2 separate regions of the Homo sapiens genome follow, and region 1 is linked to region 2. A link means that fine-mapping ties the variant in region 2 to the expression of a gene that starts in the linked region. Tissue or cell type: whole blood. Region 2 holds a variant in brackets; the other region holds the start of a gene. All regions are shown on one strand. Distances are between the middles of the regions.

Evidence for each region. PIP is the estimated chance that this variant, and not a neighbour inherited with it, causes the effect.
Region 1: PIGG starts here. The variant in region 2 is fine-mapped to the expression of PIGG in whole blood (INTERVAL, PIP above 0.99).

Annotation. Positions count from the first base shown.
Region 1 is chr4:496,169-501,824 of GRCh38, reverse strand. It overlaps PIGG (phosphatidylinositol glycan anchor biosynthesis class G (EMM blood group)), which reads right to left and starts at 2,615. Exons shown (of 13, transcript NM_001127178.3): 1 at 2,336-2,615; 2 at 1,224-1,429. The coding sequence starts at 2,489. ZNF721 (zinc finger protein 721) reads left to right here and starts at 2,669. Exons shown (of 3, transcript NM_133474.4): 1 at 2,669-2,769. RefSeq lists enhancers at 1,654-2,517, 2,475-2,954, 2,518-3,383.
Region 2 is chr4:601,946-607,601 of GRCh38, reverse strand. The region is part of intron 1 of LOC124900162 (a long non-coding RNA gene); the gene reads right to left. Among named protein-coding and RNA genes, the nearest start is that of PDE6B, 21 kb to the left of the region's middle. The variant T/AT (reference allele first, on the strand shown) is at 2,781.

The DNA of each region.
Region 1 (5,656 bases), 110 kb after region 2:
CATGAGGACAATGCTGTCTTGTTCTTCACTGCCTCCCTCCTGTCTGGAACAGTGTGGCACACAGTAGATGCTCAATAAATATTGCTGAAGGAAGTCACATCACATTGAAATGCGGCAGAGAGAGTAAGAAATTCAAGGAAAAAGTCAGTGAGTGATATGGCACTGTGCTTCCTTCAGTCTCAGACTGCTTTCATCCAGTGAACATCTGCCAAGCATCTGCAAATGGGGCTGCCCCCAAGCCTTAAATCAATAAGTAGCTCCTTCTCACCAAATAATGTTTCACATGATCAACAACACAGCTAAGGCTCCGTCAGAGACTTTATGCCACGCTCACATGCGATACACTCACACACTTCAACCCCTCTGCTCCTTTCTGTCCCCACCTTTATTCATCCTTCCAGTCTCAGTTTAAATGCAATTTCCTCAGCCAGGCTTTCTCACCCACTAATCATCACATCCTGTTCTTTCTCATCATGCATTAACCACACTTTACAACTGCATGTTTTCATATGCTCCTTTGTTGAGTGGCTGTATATCTAAAGACTAAAAGCTACATGAAGGCAGAGATACTATTTTTTCCCCAATTGCATACCCATTGAAGTATCACCACATAGTCGTTGCTCAAAAGTTTTGAGCCAATCAATAAAGGCTTACTTTTTTCTTTACCCACGGTTCTTGGGAAATGCACTATGTACTTCAAAGCTGCTGTCAGTAGGCTGGACACCTGAAGGATATGGTGGAAACAGTGGTAATTGTTGAGGCCGGAACATACTGATTTGATCATTATGTATACTGGTGGATAATTTTGGAGAAGTCACATTTAACTTATCTGAGTTTGCTTTCCTATCTATAAAGTCTAGAGACTGAACTAGATTAACTCTAAAGGCTCCTTCTAAGATTGTAAATGACCCAGTGACGATTAAAGAAGAAAGCAGGTCACCAAGAATGGCATATCTTGGGGTAGGTTAGCCTGGATGATCTTGCTCTAAATCTTTTATATTTGCCATGAAGCATGAGCTTTGGCTACTTGACATGGGGCACAAATGATGGGTCTCAGTTCCATCCCGTGTGAGGCTCCTTCAACATTCTATTGCCCCAGCCAACTGACAGCACAAAATTTCCACTTTCTTAAAATTGCAACTCCAAGCGAAAGACTACAGAGACCCCCTCTAAATCTTCAAAACAGCCAAACCATGATTCATAAAACATTAAGGCAAACTTACCTTGATTCGAGGCATAGTAACTGTAGGTGGCTTTGCTTCAGCCACAAAACTGTGAGATGCTCCTTTTTCCACAAGGTAAGTTGTGTAGGGCATAAATTTCACACCCTTTGACCCAAACACAAAATCATCTCTCAAGGCATCTATCAGAACAATAACAACTTTACTGAAGAGAGGTGGTGGCAGCGTGGTCCAGTTAGAACTGGCTCCTAAGTGTTTGAAAGAAAAAAAAGGAAATTGAACTCTAAACTTTCCTTAGCATCAAGCACCTTCACAATCTAGCTTCTACCTACTTCTCCAGCACATACCCTGCGATATCTACATAACCCAACCCAAAAGGAGGCGACTTGTACTTGGTAGGTAGTGCTGGGGGGAAAGGACGGGGGTTAACAGGAGTAATCTTAGGGACCCACAGTAGCAAGCAGTGAATTATCCTCAGTATGGTGAAGAGTACTGGGGTAGGAGAATCCCTACGTAAGGGTCCTGGAATGGGACATTTAGGGAGCTTGACCTAAAACGCAGAGCTGCAGCTACGGGATGGCTGGGCGTTTACATACTGCGTTTACATGGTCAGCGGCTGGCGATGTGTGCAAGTGGTCCAGAACCAGGGCGCCTTTACTTGCTGTATATGGCTGGGTAGGTGAAGCCTAGGAAGAGGCCTAACGCAGAGAGGCCTTAGCCCCTAGGCAGGGAAAACATCTTGGAGGAATATAAGAGACCAAAACGCGAGGGGATCGGCAGGGGTCTTATCTGTTGTGTGCTAGGGGGCAAAAAGGGCGCCTATAACGGGGAGTGACCCAAAGGCTGCTCAGGAAAGGGGCGGGAGCTCTGGACGAGTAGAAGTGGAGAGGCTGGATCCCAGGTATGGACACAGCTTACTTTGTGGTGATCAGGAAGGAAGGTCGAAGTGGGGCCAGTAGAGGTGGTTGCCACAAAGTTGTAAGAATACAGAAAAGAGACGCTGGAGCGGTTAAAAAAAATTTCTGAGGTGGGGACCATAATGGAAGAGACCACCGGGGAGCGCCGAGAAGAAATCCGAGCAGCGAGGCTCAGAAAAAAGGTCTTCTAGGGGATGTGGGGTCAGGGGAGCGGAGACGCCGGGGAGGGGTCCGTACCAGCCGAGGGTTCGGGCGCTGGGGGCTCCGCTCCGTGTTCCGCTCTGGCAGAGGAACGAACGGGAGCCGGGAAGAATCCCCGAAGGAAGACCGCGATCCCTAGCACCTCGATCGCTACGCAACAGGTAGCGAAAGTCCCGGAGCCCAGCCGCATCGTGGACACGCTAGGCTGGATGCGGAACCGACCCCACCTGGAGCCTCGCCCTGCTGCAGCCGCGCTTCCGGCTCCAGGTAGCCGCCTCTAAGCAATAACGCCAGGCCTTATCGTCGCAGCGACAGTGGCGTCACGTCCGCCGGCGCGCCACAGCAGCGCGTCACTTCCGCCAGCCCGCCACAGCGGGGCGTCACCTCGGACATACGAACAGCGGGCGGTGTTCCCGGCTCCGTGGGGCCGTCTTCCCGGCGAGTCCGCGACGGTCGCCGCCCACGGCGAGGTACGAGGTTTTAAAAAGTTTTTAATTTGGAAGGCAGGGTGCAGTGGCTCACGCCTTTAATCCCAGTACTTTGGGAGGCCGAGGCGGGCGGATCACGAGGTCAGGAGATCGAGACTATCCTGGCCAACATGGTGAAACCCCGTCTCAACTAAAAATACAAAAAATTAGCGGGGCGTGATGGCGGGTGCCTGTCGTCCCAGCTACTCGGGAGGCCGAGGCAGGAGAATCGCTTGAACCTGGGAGGCGGAGGTTGCAGTGAGCCGAGATCGCGCCACTGCACTTCTGCCTGGCAACAGAGCGAGACTGCGTCTCAAAAAAAAAAAAAAAAAGAAAATTCAACCCAATACCTCAGACAACTGGTAAATATCTTAATGATTAACTTCGTTTTAAAGATGCCACATGAGTGAGATCATGAGGTATTTGTCTTTCTGTGTCTTATTTTGCTTACATGATATCCTCAGGTTTATCCGTGTTGTGGCAAATGATAGGGTTTCATTCTTTTATTAGAGCTGAATAGTACTCCATTGTGTATATATACCACATTTTCTTTTTTCTGAAAGGAAAATCTTGGGGCCCCAAAATTACTAAACTAAGGGAAAAGACAAGCTCGGAACTGCTCAGGACAAACCTGCCTCCCATTCTATTCAAAGTCATTCCTCTGCTCACTGAGATAAATGCATATTGATAGCCTCCTTTGGAGAGGCTTATCAGAAACCCAGAAACTGCAACCATTTGTCTGTCACCTACCTGTGACCTGGAAGCCCCCTCCCTGTTCCAAGTTGCCCCCGCCTTTCTGGACAGAACCAATGTCCTTCTTTTTTTTTTTTTTTTTTTTTTTTTCTTTTTCTTTTCAGATGAAATCTCACTCTGTCGCCCAGGCTGGAATGCAGTGGCGTGATCTCAGATCACTGCAACCTCTGCCTCCCGGGTTCAAGCAATTCTCCTGCCTCAGCCTCCTGAGTAGCTGGGATTACAGGTGCGTGCCACCACGCACGGCTAATTTTTGTATTTTTAGTTGAGACGGGGTTTCACCATGTTGGTCAGGCTGTTCTTGAACTCCTGACCTCGTGATCCGCCCGCCTCGGCCTCCCAGAGTGCTGGGATTTACAGGCATGAGCCACCGCGCCCGGCCTGTTTTTTTTTTGTTGGTTTGTTTTTGAGACGGAGTCTCGCTCTGTCGCCCAGCCTGGAGTGCAGTGGCACCATCTCCGCTCACTGCAAGCTCCGCCTCCCGGGTTCACGCCATTTTCCTACCGCAGCCTCCCGTGTAGCTGGGACTACAGGCGCCCGCCGCCACGCCCGTCAAATTTTTTTTTTTTTTTTGTATTTTTTAGTAGTGACGGGTTTCACCATGTTAGCCAGGATGGTCTCAATCTCCTGACCTCGTGATCCGCCCGCCTCTGTCTCCCAAAGAGCTGGGATTACAGGCGTGAGACACCGCGCCCTGTCCGGCCTGTTATTATACATATGATTGATATCTCGTGACTCCCTAAAATGAATACAACCAAGCTGTGCCCCGACCACCTTGGACCCACGTCGTCAGGATCTCCGGAGGCTGTGTCATGGGCGTCCTTAACTTTGGGAAATAAGCCTCCTGAAATGATTAAGACTTGTCATTTTTCTCGATTGACATTGATAAGCACTGAGAGATCCTCAGTGAAGGTAACCCGGCCTGCAGCAGTTCGCCTATTGATCCTCGGTATTGGCTTGGCACCTTATTGCCCAAACTGGTAGGATGATTGCTGAAATCTGGGACCTTGTTCCTCCAGGGATCCCTGATCTTCCAACGTTTTTCGGTGGGGGGTCTGAGGTTTATTTGCTGTTAAAAAACTCCTTTTTTGGGAGTTCCCACTCGCTTCATCAAGGAAGGCAAGCCTGCCTGCTTCTGCATCGACAGATAGCCGTCTTCAGCTTGAGCCCCATCACTAGGTAAGAAAATTGATTTGGAATTTTGTCTTGCAAATTCTTTTTAAATGACTAAAGATAACATTAACAACCAGCTGGTGTTTATTTCTGCTTACACTTAGAGCGTTCAGAAGTCATAGGCTGGGCGCGGTGGCTCACGCCTGTAATCCCAGCACTTTGGGAGGCCGAGGTGGGCGGATCACGAGGTCAGGAGATCGAGACCATCCTGGCTAACACGGTGAAACCCCATCTCTACTAAAAATACAAAAAATTAGCCGGGCGCGGTGGCGGGCACCTGTAGTCCCAGCTACTCAAAAGGCTGAGGCAGGAGAATGGCGTGAACCCGGGAGGCGGAGCCTGCAGTGAGCCGAGATCGCGCCACTGCACTCCAACCTGGGCGACAGCGAGACTCCGTCTCAAAAAAAAAAAAAAAAAAAAAAAAAGAAGTCATGTATTTTGTGTGATCATTGTTAGTTTTGCTTACCTGTTCTGTTGTTTGTTTCTGTCTTGTTGGGGTTTTTTTTGTGTGTTTTGGTCCTTTCCCTTATCGGATTTGACCAACTCCAAACCCTCTAGCTCATGAGTGTAGAATCTTCCCCTCTGAAGAAATAAGAGCACCTGCCTCCCCTCAGCTTTTCGGGGCATTCTCAGACAACTGAGAATCACGTGAGGGTGTCTGGGAGGAATGCTGCCTAAGACATGCAGTGGGTCTAAATAGGTTTCCCCCCCAGAAGAACATACTTAGAGTCTAATCTCAGCTGGCAGGTGCATATAAGGAGGTGACCCCTCCCGCACCTTGAGCCTCTGACACTGTGCCAGGTGGCCACCACACGGGTGAACCCAACCAGTTCGGGGGGTAACAGCCCTGAAAAGCTAGGTCTGCAAGCAGCACGTTTTGGGTCCGACACACATTCTGACTTGGCGAAATCCGAAGGGGAACTCTAAATTATGGGAACAAGGCCTCTGAAGCGGCTAAATACCC
Region 2 (5,656 bases):
TTTTTTTTTTGACAAAGTCTTGCTCTGTCGCCCAGGTTGGAGTGCAGTGGTGCTCACTGAAACCTCTGCCTTCCGGGTTCAAGTGATTCTCCTGCCTCAGCCTCTTGAGTAGCTGGGATCACAGGCACCTGCCACCATGCTTGGCTAATTTTTGTATTTTTAGTAGAGACAGGGTTTCACACCATGTTGGTCAGGCTGGTCTTGAACTCCTGACCTCAGGTGATCCACCCGCCTTGGACTTCCAAAGTGCTAGGATTACAGGCGTAAGCCATCATGCCCGGCCAGAAATGTGTTTCTTAAATAGTAAGACTTGGAAGTCGACACAACTCCTTGATCCAAGGGCTGCAGAATGGATGTTGTTTTAGCAGCCACGAAAGCAGCATGACTCTGTGTATGTCTCTGTTAGAGCTCTGGGAACTAGGTGCATTGTCAACGAATATACGTATGTATTTTCAGACAGGGTGTCACTGTCACCAAGGCTGGAGTGCAGTGGTGTGATCCTGGCTGACTGCAGCTTTGACCTCCCTGGCTCAAGTGATCCTCCCACCTCAGCCTCCTGAGTAGCTGAGCCCACAGGCATAAGCTACCATACCTGGCTAATTTTAAAATTTTTTATAAAGATAGGGTCTCCTTATGTTGCTCAGGCTGGTCTCAAATTCCTAGGCTCAAGTGATCCTCCTGCCTCAGTTTCCCAAAGTTCTGGGATTACAAGCGTGAACCATCATGCCCAGACTCATAGTAATATTATGAAAAGAATCTTGTTTTTCCCGAGCAGTAGCTCTCAATAGTGGGCTTAATGGATTCCGTAAACCATCGGGAGCACATGTGCTGCCATCCAGGCCTTGTTGCTCCATTTCTAGAGCAGGCAGAGTGCATGTGGTATAATTCTTAAGGGCTCTAGGATTTTCTGAATGGTGAATGAACACTGGCTTCAATCTGAGGCCACCAGCTGCATTAGCCCCTCACAAGAGGCTCAGCCTGTCCTATGAAGCTTCGACGCCAGGCACTGGCTTCTCTCCAGCTATAAAAGTCTCAGATGGCATCTTCTTCCAACAGAAAACTATGTTGTCTACATAAAAGGTCTGTGTAGCGTGGCCACCTTCATCCATGATCTCAGCTGGATGTTCCGGGTAACTTACTGCAGCTTCTCCATCAGTACCTGCTGCCTCCCTTGAACTTTCACGTTATGGAGATGATTTCTTTCCTTAAACCTCACAAACCCATCTCTGTTTGCTTCAGACTTTTTCTTCTGCAGCTTCCTCACCTCTCTCAGCCTCCACAGGATTTAAGAGTCGGGGCCTTGCTCTGGATTAGGCTTTGGCTTAAGGCTTTGGCTCCAGCCTTCTTGGCACCAAGGGCCGGTTTTGTGGAAGACAATTTTTCCACAGACTAGGCGTCGGGGGGAAGGTTTGGGATGAAGCTGTTCCACCTCAGATCATCAGGCGATAGTTAGATCCTCACAAGGAGTGCGCAACCTCGATCCCTCGCACGCGCAGTTCACAGTAGGGTTTGCACGGTTCTGAGAATCTAATGCTGCTGCTGATCTGACTCTCCTGCCACTCACCTCCTGCTGTGTGGCCTGGGGGTTGGGGACCCCTGGCTTAAGGGAATGTTGTGGGTGGTTTGATCATTCCATCTAGGCCATTAAAACTTTCTCCCTCTCAGTGATTTGGCTGTTTCGCTTCCTTATTCACGTGTTCCACGGGGTAGCACTTTTAATCTCCTTCAAGAACTTCTTTTTTGCATTCACAGGTTGACTCAGTGCTTGGTGCACGAGCCTAGATTTCCACCTGTCTCGGCTTTCAACATGCCTTTCTCACTGAGTCTAATCATGTCTAGCTTGTGATTGACCATTCACTTGAGGACTTAGAGGTCACTGTAGGGTTATTGGTTGGCCTAATTTCAAATTGCTGTTTCTCAGGGAATAGCGAGGCCCAAGGAAAGGGAGAGAGGGAGGAATGGCTGGTCCATGGAGCAGTCAGAACACACACAGCACTTATCAATTAAGTTCACTTTCTTATATGCGTGGTTCATGGAGCCCTAAAACGATGACCAAGTAACTCCAAAGATCACCAACCACAGACCACCACAAAAGATACAATCATAATAAAGTTCAACACATTGCAAAATTACTAACGTGTGACTGAGAGATGTGAGCGAGCACACGCCGTTGGAAACACGGCACAGGTGGGCTTGCTCAACGCGGGGCGGCCACAGACCTTCAACAGTCAAACATGCGGTATCTGCAAAGTGCAGGAAAGTGAACACAATAGGCCGGGTGCGGTGGCTCACACCTGTAATCCCAGCACTTTGGGAGGCCGAGACGGGCAGCTCACGAGGTCAGGAGATTGAGACCACCCTGGCTAACACGGTGAAACCCCGTCTCTACTAAAAGTACAAAAAATTAGGCGGGCGTGGTGGCGGGTGCCTGTAGTCCCAGCTACTCGGGAGGCTGAGGCAGAAGAATGGCGTGAACCCGGGAGGCGGAGCTTGCAGTGAGCTGAGATAGCGCCACTGCACTCCAGCCTGGGCGACAGAGCGAGACTCCGTCTCAAAAAAAAAAAAAAAAAAAAAAAAAGGTGAACACAATAAAACAAAGTGGCCCACATCCTTTAAAATCTATGTCCTTATTTAAAATTGGGTTGTGGCTGCACATGGTGGTTCATGCCTGTAATCCCAGCACTTTGGGAGGCCAAGGAGGGTGGATCATTTGAACCCAGGAGTTTGAGACCAGCTTGGGCAACATAGTGAGACCCCATCTCTGCAAAAAAAAAAAAAAA[T/AT]TAGCTGGGTGCGATGGTGTACACCTGTAGTTCCAGCTACTTGGGAAGCAGAAGTGGGTGAATTGCTTGAGCCTGGAATGTTACGGCTTCACTGGGCTATGGTGGTGTCACTGCACTCCAGCCTTGGCAAGAGAATGATACCCTGTCTCTAAACAAAAAAACCCAAACCTCAAAACAAATTGGATTGTTTGTTTACTTATGACAGCAGTTTCTCCTTATCTGCTGGGTATACATTCCAAGACCCCCCAATGAATGCTTGAAACCATGGATAGTACTGAACTCTGAACTTTATACATACTACATTTTTTCCTATAAATATATACCTATGATAAAGTTTAATGTACAAACTAGGCAAAATAAGAGACTAAAAATAATAATAAAATAGAACAATTATAACAGTAAACTGTAATAAAAGTTACGTGAATGTGGGCTCTGTCTCTCTCTCTCAAAATATCTTGTTGCATGTAATATTTTCCGACCACAGTTTACTGCTGGTAACTGAAACCACACAAAGTGGAACCACAGACAAGCGTGTGGTGGGGGGTGCTGTAATGCATTTTGTTCTTTATATATTCCAGACATAAATCCTTTATCAGATATGTGATTTTAAAATACTTTCTTCCAGTCTATGAATTGCCTTTTTATTCTGTTAACAGTGTCTTCCCAAGAGCAGATGCTTTTAATGCTGATGAAGGCTGGTTTATTGTTTTTATAGATGATGCTTTTGAAATCACAGCTAAAAAATCTTTGTCCACTCAAGATCACAGAAATGTTCGCTTAGGTTTACTTCTAGCAACTGTGTAGTCTTAGGTGTGACATTTACGTCTGCAGTACATTTTGAGTTATTTTTATATGTGGTCCGGGTATAGATCGAGGCTCTCTTTTTCTTTTTGCACATGCATATTCAATAGTTCCAGCATCACTGGTTGAAAAGACATTTCTTTCTCTACGAATTGTCACATTTACATATTATACCACTTCACATACAGTGCAAGAACCTTACGTCAGTGTTATGGATTGAAATTGTGTCCCACAAAATTCATATGTTGAAATCCCAGCCCCCAGTACCTCATGACGTGATCGTTATTTGAAGGTAAGACCTTTAAAGAGGTAATTTAGGCCGGGTACGGTGGCCCGCACCTGTAATCGCAGCACTTTGGGAGGCCGGGTACGGTGGCTCGCGCCTGTAATCCCAGCACTTTGGGAGGCCGAGGCAGGCGGATTGCCTGAGCTCAGGAGTTCAAGACCAGCCAACATGGTGAAACCCTGTCTCTACTAAAATACAAAAAATCAGTTGGGCGTGATAGCGTGCACCTGTAATCCCAGCTACTCGGGAGGCTGAGGCAGAAGAATCGCTTGAACCCGGAAGGTGGAGGTTGCAGTGAGCTGAGATCATGCCACTGCACTGCAGCCTGGGCAACAGAATGAGACTCAGTCTCAAAAAAAATAAAATAAATAAATAAATAAATTTTAAAAATAAAGAGGTGATTAAGTAGAAATGAGGCATGAATGTGGGGCTCTAATTCAACATGGCTGGCATTCCTATAAGACGAGGAGACCAGGTCACACAGAGTCCCCTGGGTGAGCCCGCGTGGAGGGAAGACCATGTGAAGAGGCAGCAAGAGAGCAGCTGTCTGCAGACCAAGGAGAGAGACTTCTGCGGAGACCACACCCGTCAACGTCTTCATCCCAGACTCTCAGCCTTCAGAATGGTCAGAGGACACATTTCTGCTGCTGAAGCTACCTAGTCTGTGGTAGCTTGCTATGGAAGTGTTAGAAAACTAACAAGGAAAGTGGGGGTCTGTGTGTATTTGGGGGATCAAAGCCTTTGTGCAGAGGCCCCTGACCCTCCACTCTCAAGGCCTGGGTAGGGCTGAGGAATGACCGCATCTGTGCTTCTACAGGCTTGCATCGCCCTGGCAGCTGGAAGCCGGTTCTGCGGTGTTAGGTGAACACAGGGCACCTGACTGGTCCAAGCACGCCACCCAGAGGCAGCCTTGGAACTGCACCTGCTGGGCAGGACCTGGGCTCTACCTGCGTCCTTCCTGACAGCCCATCAGAGTCCATGGGATGGATGCACCTGCTCGTGCACCTGCCTCCAAGGTCTGTGGGCTAGGTGGGCCCAAGGGGGCCTGGTGTTGGCACAGAGCCTCTGGAGCCAGGAAGATGGTGGCAGTGTTTGGTGGCTTCTCCTGGCCTGAACATGGCCCCCAGGGCTGGGGTGGGATAGGATGCCCTCATCTGCAGGTCCTTAAGCGGTTGTGATGACAAGAAGTGGGAGTGGCTGCTCAGGGCCCCTGGGCAGCTGGACCTTGGGGACAGTCCCTGGGCTGGGAAGGCGCTCAGAGTGCACGTCTTAGCAGCCTGGGGTGCCTGCTGCCCTTGACGGGGACATGGGTGGGTTTTTATAGGGCAGGGGAGTGGCCGACCTTGGGTAGAAAGGAGCAGAACGAAGGCCGGAGGAGGGAGGTGACTGGGCAGAGGCAGCCCCAGTGGCCGGGCCGCTTGCCCCCGTCTGTCCTGTGGGGCTCCCTCACGTCCCTTCAGTCTGCCCCCACTTTGGCGCCTTGAATTTGAGAGAGGCCACGTGTTCTTGAAGCCTAGTGGGATCCTCGGCAACTGCTTTTGAAATTCCTCTTTCACAACCAAGGTGGCTGGGGCAAGCCATCTCCCATCAGCATTTTGGAGAACAAATGCTTTCGCTGCCTTGATCCGCCCAGCAGGGCGGCTGCCAGTGCCCAGGTCTCAGCAGAAGCAAGGCAGAGGCGCGTGTGGAGACCAAGGGGCAAGAATGGCCCAAGCCTCAGCCTTGTCCACCCCATCCTTCTTCCATGCTGTGGCCAGTGAGATTTTTCTGAAACGACCGACCTGGTCCC